Linked DNA regions of Homo sapiens. The protein of the gene in region 2 purifies or fractionates together with the protein of the main gene of each other region. This does not show direct contact. Each region holds a gene or a part of one and is shown on either strand. Other genes may lie near its edges. The genes, in order: SNTB2, RPS6KA3 and GRSF1.

Evidence for each region.
Region 1: the proteins of RPS6KA3 (region 2) and SNTB2 purify together in Homo sapiens (affinity purification with mass spectrometry, with the first as the bait; one large-scale study listed by BioGRID). This does not show direct contact.
Region 3: the proteins of RPS6KA3 (region 2) and GRSF1 purify together in Homo sapiens (affinity purification with mass spectrometry; 2 studies listed by BioGRID and IntAct, with this or other methods). This does not show direct contact.

Annotation. Positions count from the first base shown.
Region 1 is NC_000016.10:69,185,522-69,189,273, forward strand, and holds the start of SNTB2 (beta-2-syntrophin), read left to right. Parts: upstream 1-1,642; 5' UTR 1,643-1,645; coding exon 1,646-2,225; intron 2,226-3,752. UniProt on the Homo sapiens protein: Adapter protein that binds to and probably organizes the subcellular localization of a variety of membrane proteins. May link various receptors to the actin cytoskeleton and the dystrophin glycoprotein complex.
Region 2 is NC_000023.11:20,260,396-20,264,047, reverse strand, and holds part of RPS6KA3 (ribosomal protein S6 kinase alpha-3), read left to right. Parts: intron 1-3,652. UniProt on the Homo sapiens protein: Serine/threonine-protein kinase that acts downstream of ERK (MAPK1/ERK2 and MAPK3/ERK1) signaling and mediates mitogenic and stress-induced activation of the transcription factors CREB1, ETV1/ER81 and NR4A1/NUR77, regulates translation through RPS6 and EIF4B phosphorylation, and mediates cellular proliferation, survival, and differentiation by modulating mTOR signaling and repressing pro-apoptotic function of BAD and DAPK1.
Region 3 is NC_000004.12:70,829,841-70,833,492, forward strand, and holds part of GRSF1 (G-rich sequence factor 1), read right to left. Parts: intron 3,434-3,652; coding exon 3,278-3,433; intron 2,611-3,277; coding exon 2,467-2,610; intron 1,835-2,466; coding exon 1,699-1,834; intron 1-1,698. UniProt on the Homo sapiens protein: Regulator of post-transcriptional mitochondrial gene expression, required for assembly of the mitochondrial ribosome and for recruitment of mRNA and lncRNA. Binds RNAs containing the 14 base G-rich element.

The DNA.
Region 1 (3,752 bases), on a different chromosome or scaffold from region 2:
TACAAGCGTGAGTCACCGCGTGTGGCTCAGACTTTTTTTTTTTTTTTGGAGATGGAGTTTTGCTCTTGTTGCCCAGGCTGGAGTGCAGTGGTGCAATCTTGGCTCACTGCAACCTCTGCCTCCCGGATTCAAGCGATTCTCCTGCCTCAGCCTCCTGAGTAGCTGGGATTGCAGGCGCCTGCCACCACACCTGGCTAATTTTTTGTATTTTTAGTAGAGACGGGGTTTCACCATGTTGGCCAGACTGGTCTATAACTCTTGACCCCAGGTGATCCACCGCCTTGGCCTCCCAAAGTGCTGGGATTACAGGTGTAAGCCACTGCACCCGGCCCAGACTTTCTTTTTCTTTCTTTCTTTCTTTCTTTTTTTTTTTTTTTTTTTGAGGCAGAGTTTTGCTCTTGTTGCCCAGGCTGGAGTGCAATGGTGCCATCTCAGCTCACCGCAATCTCTGCCTCCCAGGTTCAAGCAATTCTCCTGCCTCAGCCTCCCAAGTAGCTGGGATTACAGGCATGTGCCACCACGCCCGGCTAATTTTTTGTATTTTTAGTAGAGATGGGGTTTCTCCATGTTGGTCAGGCTTGTCTCAAACTCGTGACCTCAGGTGATCCGCCCACCTCAGCCTCTCAAAGTGCTGGGATTAAAGGCTTGAGCCACCGCGCCCGGCCCAGACTTTCAATCTCAGGTTTATACCACTGATTCTGGGTCTCAGGCCTTTGGGCTTGGATTGGAAGTGCACCACCAACTTTCCTGGGCCTGCAGTTTGCAGATGGCAGATCGTGGGACTTCTCAGCATCCATAATCTCGTGGCCAGTCCCTTGTAATAATAATAAATTTATATATCTCTATATATCCTATTGGTTGGTTTCTCTGAAGAACCCTAAGACACCATCATTCTGCAAATATCCTTGAGGCCTGCCAATTGTGGCTTCAGGGTTTAAGAAGACATGGTTCCCTCTTGAATTACAGGCAAGTAAACGAGATTACAAAACATTGACAAAGGCTTGGATCATGCTGTTGGACCTTTGCTTGAGCTGTTCACCGTCCGTTGTTACCTCTGTGAAGCTGACCCCAGGCCTAACCAAATGTTCCTTTTATGCTGTTCTGGGGACGTCTTCTGCATGTCACTTAACCACATAGTATCACACCTAGTTGGTTGGTTCTGCATTTTCCTTCCCCACTAGACCGCAAACTCTCAGCTGTTGTTGGTACTATTGAGCTTAAGTACAGGGCCTCAAAAGGAGCCGGAGTACAGGGCTAAGCGCTCAGTACACAGGGTACGAACCAATCAATGCAAGAATGAACGTGCCACCGGGTCTTGCAGGCTTGAGAAGTGTTTCTCCAAGCTGATTTTGCTTTCCGTGCCCGGGCAGCTCCCGTGAATTGCACGGTAGAGGTCAGGAGTTTCTGGGGGGTCCGTGGGGAGCCAATGGAAGGATGAGGAGAAATGCAGTCCCACCGCATTCGGGTTGCCCACGTCCGGCGAGAGGCGAGTGATCGGACAACTTCTGCACCTCCCGGAAGCGGCTGCGCCGGCCCCGCCCCTCCAGAGGCAGGCGTGGCCTCATGAATAATGAATCGTGCGGGGGAGGGGCCGGGCCCGCCCCTCCGGGCGGGAAGAGGGAAGCGCCGAGGCTGCCTGACTGGAATGAGGGTAGCTGCGGCGACTGCGGCGGCTGGAGCGGGGCCGGCCATGGCGGTGTGGACGCGGGCCACCAAAGCGGGGCTGGTGGAGCTGCTCCTGAGGGAGCGCTGGGTCCGAGTGGTGGCCGAGCTGAGCGGGGAGAGCCTGAGCCTGACGGGCGACGCCGCCGCGGCCGAGCTGGAGCCCGCTCTGGGACCCGCGGCCGCCGCCTTCAACGGCCTCCCAAACGGCGGCGGCGCGGGCGACTCGCTGCCCGGGAGCCCAAGCCGCGGCCTGGGGCCCCCGAGCCCGCCGGCGCCGCCTCGGGGCCCCGCGGGTGAGGCGGGCGCGTCGCCGCCCGTGCGCCGGGTGCGGGTGGTGAAGCAAGAGGCGGGCGGCCTGGGCATCAGCATCAAGGGCGGCCGCGAGAACCGGATGCCGATCCTCATCTCCAAGATCTTCCCCGGGCTGGCTGCCGACCAGAGCCGGGCGCTGCGGCTGGGCGACGCCATCCTGTCGGTGAACGGCACCGACCTGCGCCAGGCCACCCACGACCAGGCCGTGCAGGCGCTGAAGCGCGCGGGCAAGGAGGTGCTGCTGGAGGGTGAGCGGGGCCGGGCGGGAGGGTGGGCAGGCCGCGGCGGCCTGGGCTCGCGGGAGCTCACTTTGTTCCTGCCCCGCCGGCGGGGCGAGCCGGTTCTCTCCCCGTCTCTCTCCAAACCCGGGTTTCTGGAGCTTTCAGTGTGGAAAAACGGATGCTTCTTGCAGGAAAAGTTGGGCAGCCGCCGAAGTGTGGCTTGCAGCCCCTAGGGAAGACTCGGCTGAGATTGAGTAAAAAGCAGCTGCCTATGAAGCCCCACCTCGGCCCGATAAGCTGACACTAAGAACTTGAGGGAGAGCGAACGGCTCGAGTGGGTCTGTCTCCGTTTGCCCGCTGAGAAGTGCCGGGTTGGCGCTTAACTCACTCACCTCTGGCTCCTCGGGGCGGGCGGGTCTATTAAAAAAAAAAAAAAGTCCATCTTCACCGATGCCAGCGGTATGCTCGGGCAAACCACCAAAGCGCTGGTTAATTTATGGGAATTTAACCCATCATTGGCTCTCAACAATAACCAAAGGAGATCATAGCATTTCATTGAAGCCAGAAAGCTGAAACAGCAAGTCTGTGTGGTTAACGAACCTTGTTTAACAGTGGAGGCTCACGTGTTTGAACATTTACTGCCAACTAGAGTTTTGCCCCTTTTGCAAGTCTGCTGCCAGCTTCCTACCACTCACAGGCGCGCTGCTTCAAGACTCTTGGGGTTTTTGTAAGAAACTTGAAATGGCAAATCACAAGATAGGTTTCAATAACCAGGATTATTCTTTACGTTAAGTTATATGTATGTGATCTGTAAGTTGGATCTTTCATGATGAATTTGAACTAAGGCAAAAATAAAATTCCTCTCCTCTAAGGACTCATGCATGTTGGAGGTGATAGAGTATTGTAAATTATAAACGAAAAGTCAGCTGCTTTCTTCAGAAATTTTTGAGCGGTCAGCTTTCTTTCACTGGTGATTATGGCTAGCTGTGTTGAAAAGAATATAAAAGAAGATGCTGTCCCTACTTGGTCTCTAGTTGGAGAAATGATAGAAAAATGCAAAACAACTTATAGGGAGGAAAGGAATGAAGTTGGTGATTACGTCGTGAAACTATACTTAAATGCCAAAGGAATGCAAAGTTAGAAAATAGTTAGTGGAGATGGAATTAGCCAGGGAGGACTTTTTCCCGAAGCTGAATCTTGAGCCAGGTCTCCAAGAAGTGATGGACATAGGCAGGCAGGGATGAGTCAGGAGGGTATTCCTGGCAGAGGAAGGACAGAAGGGAAGGGCTGGGGGCTGCTGGTGAAGAAGGACCAATCGTCAAACCGAGAGGCCAGAAGTCCAACTTGGCACAATGGATTTTCACTTTCTTATAAATCAGCTTGTGAATATTTGGAAAAATACTGATTTACCAGAAATGATTTCATGTACACCAGTTGTGAAGTTCCAGTGTCCCACCTTTATAATATCCTATTTATAAACCTTATTTATATTGCATGTCTAGGTGGGGCTAGACATTGCTCGGAAATTAGTGTTAATAGAAGGAGTAAAATTAT
Region 2 (3,652 bases):
ATATTTTCACTATTATACCGTTTCCTCCCCCAGTAGGTTCCTATCAGATAATTGTATTTTACCAGAGTAACATAGTTTTTTTTAGAGTCATTTACTTGAGTGAATACATCAAAATATTTCTCTCCAGGTTAAAAGATTTCAGGATTGGTCTGTGTAGGAGTTTACATTTATGGTCTCATCCCTAGTACACTGTGAATTCTTGAAAGCAGACATTTTTCCCCCCCTCTCTGAATCCTCAGCATTCAGCACAATGCCTGGCCCTGACATATTGTGGACTTAATAAATATCTGCTGAATGAATCATGAAAGTCAGGAATAGGATGATTATGAATCTTATCTGTTTTTTATCATTTTAATCTCATTAAAATATGAACAATTTAAAAAGACCTCAGTGCCTCAGTAAAAACACAGGCAGTTTCTTCAGTTCCTTTACACTGGCCTTCCTGCTTTAAGACCTCACACGAATCTCATGGTGTTCAAAACAAAAAAACCCTTGTGGTTAAACTCAAACGTGGGTCAGAACATGATAGGCTAGAACTAGGCCAAATGTTTAAAGAAGCAAATTTAGGATAATAAAGGAAGTACTATGTAAGCAAAGTAAGGGTTGGTACAAGATAAAAAACAAACTAGCTTCCTAACTGGTCTAGGTGAACTCTTTAGTGAGTTACTTAAAGATGCTAATATGCTTTTGAATATTTGACTGTTTAGAGGATGGATAGGTAGGAATTATGGCTCTTCTGTTGTACAAATTCTTTGCCAGTGCTGTCAGAGACAGCATTTAGTGGATCATAAGCCTGACCTAGAGTGATACTTTTTTCTCCACTGCAATAGAGTAGGTATAAATGATAGTAAATCTAAATATGAAGTTTTCAAAATGATAAAATTATGGAGGTTATTTTTGTTTTATAGAAATGTGTTATATAAAATAGCCACAATATAATGTGTTGTATACAATGTGTATTAAACAATGTGTTGTATGAAAATAGCTACCTCGACTTCCTTTAAATAACAGGTACCCATGATGCACTGAAAAATATTTAAAAAATCAACTATATAAGTATTTTATTATAGAAAATGAGGCCTTTGTGTGGGAGATCATGTTTAGTGAATGTGCAGCCATTTTTAACCTCAAAGATTATGTAGTATTCTATAGTATAGTACATAGATTTTATAGTATTTCTACTATATCAATATTATATAGGTTTCTTATTTTATCTATAGGGAAAATGCTCTATTAAAGTATAATCATTGATTTTGAAAAAAAATGTTTTATTGTTTCTTTTCCTTTTCCTGTTTTATTTTTACCACCTTTCAGGTTTTTTTCTTTCCCCTAAGTGAAGATCTGAGGAGAGGACAGGTATTGTTACATGTCAACTGTCAAGTAACTGTGACCCATTACTGAACACTTCATTGTTTTCAGTGATTATGATAGAGGATGTCAGTTTTGTAAAATCTAGAAAACTTTGCTTTATTTTGGCAGCTTGATCCTGTAGTAATGGGGTAGATTCAAAATGTGAAACTTGCTGGATGCATTTAAATTTTATTAATAAAACTTTTATCTAATTGCAGGAGCAAATATAGGCAGACTTTGTCTTCTCTTTAGTATACATTTCTGGAAACCACAATAAGTATATCTTATTTTTAATAAGACAGGTGGCATAATTGGACTGTGTACTCCTGACCAAGGACTTGACATTTGCTAAATTATAGAATGACCAAAAATACAGATCACTTATCTAGAAGTCTGAGTTGCAGAACAATTGTCCTAAAGTTTTTAAAAATTTTTATTACTAAGAAATTCATACCATTGTGATAATTAACAAGATTTGCTCTACAGTTCAATGCTCAGGGACATGTGATCTGCCAGGCTGTGAATGATGGGTAAGGTCACACTTGCCTGGTTGACCCAGTGCAGAATGGGTGCTTTAGACCCAACGGTTCAGATTATAATGAATGACACACTGACATGGTGGTGGTCTCACTGGTAATGCCTGCGTGTGATAGTGCTCAGTTGTTTATGTGCTTTGGTGGATAACACATTTTAAAGCATTGAAATGCAGCTGTGCAAGTACATATATTATACATCCCGTTCCCCAATTCACATAAATAGAAAAAAACAAGTATCTAAATTGTAATACCTAGCATTCAATGTCTTCCTTCCACCCCACTCCCATCAGTGTGTTCTTTTGGAATTAATACAGTGACCTGTATCATTAACCTGGAGATATCAGATCTCAGATATTCTAGTTTATCAGTTAAACACCAAAAAGCATTAAAACAAAGAAAAACTACCCTATTTAATCGTTCAGTAAAAACTACCATATTTAATCATTAAGTTTTGTCATGATTTAGCAAAACAAACGCAAATGTGTGTGTGTCTGTGTGTGTATGTGTTTTATAAAACAGGTTCAGGATAAAATGTATCCATATAGCACATTATGATTATTTTAATACATTTGGCCTATTTATTTTTTGACAGTTTATCAAGTTGTACAATTTAAAAGCCAATATTTATTAATCCCTAATGTACAGAAACATAGGAGGAAGTTGTCTCTTTGGTTAAACAAACTGTTGAAAGATAAACTTTGGCACACCAAAATGTTTACTTTTCAATTGATAAATAATATTTGTACATTTTTATGGGGTCATGTGATATTTTGTTCCATGCATAGAATGTGTAATGATCACATCAGGGTATTTGGGATATCCATTAATCATTTCTGTGTGTTGGGAACATTTCAAATCCTCTCTTTTAACTATTCTGAAATATATAAAACATTGTTATTAACTATAGTCACCCTACTCTACTCTGCTATCCATTGTTAGAACTTATTCCTTCTATCCAATTGTATGTACTGTGCCCATTAACCAACCTTTCTTCACCCCCACCCCCTCTGTAACCCCCACACTCGTCCTATCCTCTAGTAACTCTCATTCTGAGTAGAAACTCCCTACCTATGAGTCCCACGTGTGAGTAAGAACATGCAGTATTTGTCTTTTTGTCATGTGACCTATTTTAAGCAAATACATTAGTTACTAGTAATTAAGTAATTTGGTTTTTGCTCATTCTTAAAACTTAGAAGGGACTTTGTGGGGTTATTTGGATTAATAGCAAAGTGTTAAAGAACATAAGCTCTGGAGCCATAAAGACCTGTGTTTGAGTCCTGGCTCTGCCACTTAATAACTTTGTAACCCTATGCAAGTTATATTTAATATCTCTATACTTCAACATCCTAATTTGTAAAATAGGGATGAAAATAATGTCTACCTCATAGAGTTTTGGTGAGAATTAAATGAAATGATAATATATGTAAAGTACTTGGTTCAGTACATGGTTTAAGTTTTTAATAAACAATAGTTACAATGAATCATCCCTCTTAAAGAACTGTCTCAGTTCTTTGTTTTTCCTCTGGGGTAATTTTTTAGAATCCAGCAAAGCAATTAAAAGTGATTTATTTGATTGATCAGTTTAAATAGTCATGGTAATATCTGAACGTAATTGAAAGGGCAAGGGGAACAGAAATCTCTTTAATCTTACCCTTTTTGCATTGATCCCTTCCTCAGTATTGTCTTTAAAGGGAAAAAACAACATTGTGAAGAATATATGTGGAAGAAGGAAGAAAGGAAAGTTTGTTCACATTTTTAACATTGCT
Region 3 (3,652 bases), on a different chromosome or scaffold from region 2:
AGATCCTGAAACACTGGCTTTGGAATGGCTGTTTTGTTTACTTCAAAGGAGCTGATTTAAAAGGCCAGAAAACAGTAAAAAAAAAAATTAACGAAACAGTGATTTAACATTTGACATTTTAAACTGTACCTCCAAAGTTAAAGTTAAAACACAAATGAACCCACTTATCATCATGTGCATCCTGAGGTGATGTCAACATGAGATACTGTACAAGACAACTGATCTAATTTCTTCAAAAGTCAATTGCTTTTAAAAAGGGGGGAAGAATAAGTAAGGGGGATTTGCTCTAGTTCAAGAGAATCAGTGGTCAGGTGCAGTGGCTCACACCTGTAATCCTAGCGTTTTGGGAAGCCAAAGCGGGCGATCACTTGAGCCCATGAGTTTGAGGCCAGCCAGGGCAACACAGCAAGACCCCACCTACAAACACACACGCACGCACGCACACACACATACACACAGCCAGGTGTGGCGGCACATGCCTATTGTTCTAGCTAGTTGGGAGGATGAGGCGAGACGATTGCTTGAGCCCAGGAATTCAAGGCTGTAGTGAGCTATCATCATGCCACTGCACTCCAGCCTGGGTGACAGAATAAGACCCTGTGTCTTAAAAAAAAAAAAAAAACACACACACACACAGAGAATTATGGACATAACAATCAAATGCAGTGTGTAGACCTTATCTGGATTCTGTATTTTTGTCCGGTGTGCTGGCTCACACCTGTAATCCCAGCACTTTTGGAGGCCGAGGTGGGTGAATGACTTGAGTCCGGGAGTTCTAGACCAGCCTGGCCAACATGGTAAAACCTTGTCTCTACTAAAAATACAAAACTTAGCTGGGCATGGTGGCGCATGCCTCTAGTTCCAGCTACTCAGGAGGCTGAGGCAGGAGGATCACATGAAACTGGGAGGCAGAGAGAGGATGCAGTGAGCCAAGATCACACCACCGCACTCCAGCCTAGGCGGCAGAGTGAAACTCCGTTGCCAAAAAAAAAAAGGCTATTTTTGGTATAATTGGGAAAATGCTATTATGAACTGTTATTAGATAATATACTATTGCTAACAGTGTTAGATATAACATTGAAATTATGTAAAAAAATTTTTTTAAAAGATGCATACTAAAAAAAACCCAGATGAAGCAAATATAACAGATGTTACATTTTATATATAAATGTGTTAATCTAGCTGCTCTAGGTACTCTGTCTATGGGTTAGTCCCTGCCCCACAAGGAGCAGTCAAGCCGGATGCGGTGGCTCACGCCTGTAATCCCAGCACTTTGGGAGGCCGAGGCGGGCGGATCACAAGGTCGAGAGATCGAGACCACCCTGGCCAACATGGTGAAACCCCGTCTCTACTAAAAATACAAAAAAAGCCGGGCATGGTGGCAGGCGCCTGTAATCCCAGCTACTTGGGAGGCTGAGGCAGGAGAATCGCTTAAACCAGGGAGGCAGAGGTTGCAGTGAGCCAAGATCGTGCCATTGCACTCTAGCCTAGGCAAAAAGAGTGAAACTCTGTCTCAAAAAAAAAAAAAAGGAGCAGTCGAAAAAAAATTGTTAATCTAAATTATGGGCATTTGATGGCTCACTACACTACTCTCTCTACTTTTCTATGTTTGGATAACTTTTCAGTCATATTACAGCACATTCATCAAAATGACTTAATGTGTAACACTTCTGCATCATTAGTATCTGCTTTACTCACCGATTACCAATTTCTTCCCTGTGTTTCAACAGGGCTTGGTTGGCCATTTCTGGTTCTTCAAATTGCACATAGGCTTCCCCTGTTTTTCGCCTCCCTCTATAGTCCATCACAAAAGTAATGTCAACTATATTCAGTCCTAGGACACCAAGAGATTTTAATGCTACTAGCAGGCTTTTTTATCCTTAGAATTAACACCATCATTCACATACTAATAAAATTTTTATTCTGTTTTGCCAGTCCCAAAACTGAATACATGCTTGACAGGAAGAAAATTATTATGCAGTCAAAAGTCAGTCAACACCTACATACTTGTATTTCCAGAATAGGTAAGGTCCAAGAAGCCCACCCAAAACATACAATTCTCCCCACCAGTTTTTTTTTTTTTTTTTGCTGTTAATTATATACTAGGAAACAATAGAAATCACAGACTTCACTGCTAATGGTTCTAGGAATTAGAAAATACTTTTAAATTATATAAATTGTTATTGTCTTACACAAATACAGCAACTATTATGAGAAGTTATTTCCTTCAATAGTAAAACCCTCATGAAATTATTCTGAAATCTGACTTCCCTCCTAAAATCTGCCTGATAGAACAAAAACACATATAAAATCTATAAATATTAGAAATTTAAGTGAAGAGCTCTCCCCTAAAGAACCTAATATAACTGCATGCCTTTGCCCAGAAACAGGCTCATCTAAGATATAGAAGGAGATACCAAGGGAAAAAAGATATGAGCTCCCAAGCATAATACAACTGCAAAGTACCTGCAAAGAAGTCTACAATGTCTTTCTCATTGCAACTATAAGGAAGTCCTCTCAAACGAACCACACCATCATTTACCACAGGCGAAGATTTGACCTGCAAGCTCTTCATTAAGGCATCCACATCTTCATTGTTTATCTCATATACTACGAAGAAAAAACCCAACAGGGATGAAAAATTTACATAACAAAGGAACAAACCCATTAAAAAAAATCATTACAACTTGCTGGGTTATCTGAGAATTCAATAACTATTTTAATCTTTATGCGCTTCTCTAGAGAAAATAACAAATGACATTTATTGCATATTTACCATGCGGGCATAACTTCTTTATTTCTCACAGCTTGTAAGATACTTCATTGGCCAGGCACACTGGCTCACGCCTATAATCCCAGAACTTTGGGAGGCCAAGGCGGGTGGATTACCTGAGGTCAGGAGTTTGAGACCAGCCTGACCAATATGGTAAAACCCCATCTCTAATAAAAATACAAAAATTAGCTGGGTATCATGGCATGTGCCTGTAGTCCCAGCTACTTGGGAGGCTGAGACAGGAGAATTGCTTGAACCCAGGAGGCAGAGGTTGCAGTGAGCTGAAATCGCACCACTGCACTCCAGCCTGGGTGACAGAGTGAGATTCCATCCCCCCCACAAAAAAAAGAAACTTTATCTCTTTATGTTTTATTTTCACATCCTATAAAAGAATGCATTCATACAATCTAAATACTTCATTATTAAGGATCAAATAAAAACTACCTTGAAAAGTATAAAACCTAATGCAATGATCCCAAAAAGCCATAATCTGACTTCACATACCTTCCACATACCGCTGGCCCATGTACATGCGGTGCTTCTCTAAGGCTTTCTGCACATCCTGCTCTGACTCCATTTCAATTAAGGCATCACCCCTTCGTTTCCCATCTCTGTTTAGGAGAAAATGTATTCCATTCTCACCGTTGCGGATTCTGCAGTCTAAAAGTGTATGAGCAAAATCAATTGAAAACAGAAATCAAACTTTTAGCTCAATTATGTAAGTCACAAGAATGCAGTTTTCCAACAACAAAGCAGGAAACAAGTGTCATATTCCTTACACAAATCCCCATCACTGAAGTCATCCAAACACCAATAAGGATTTAGTCTCTAAAACCTTCCAAGTAGAAAAGATAAGCAAACCTTAGCACAGAAGCTTAT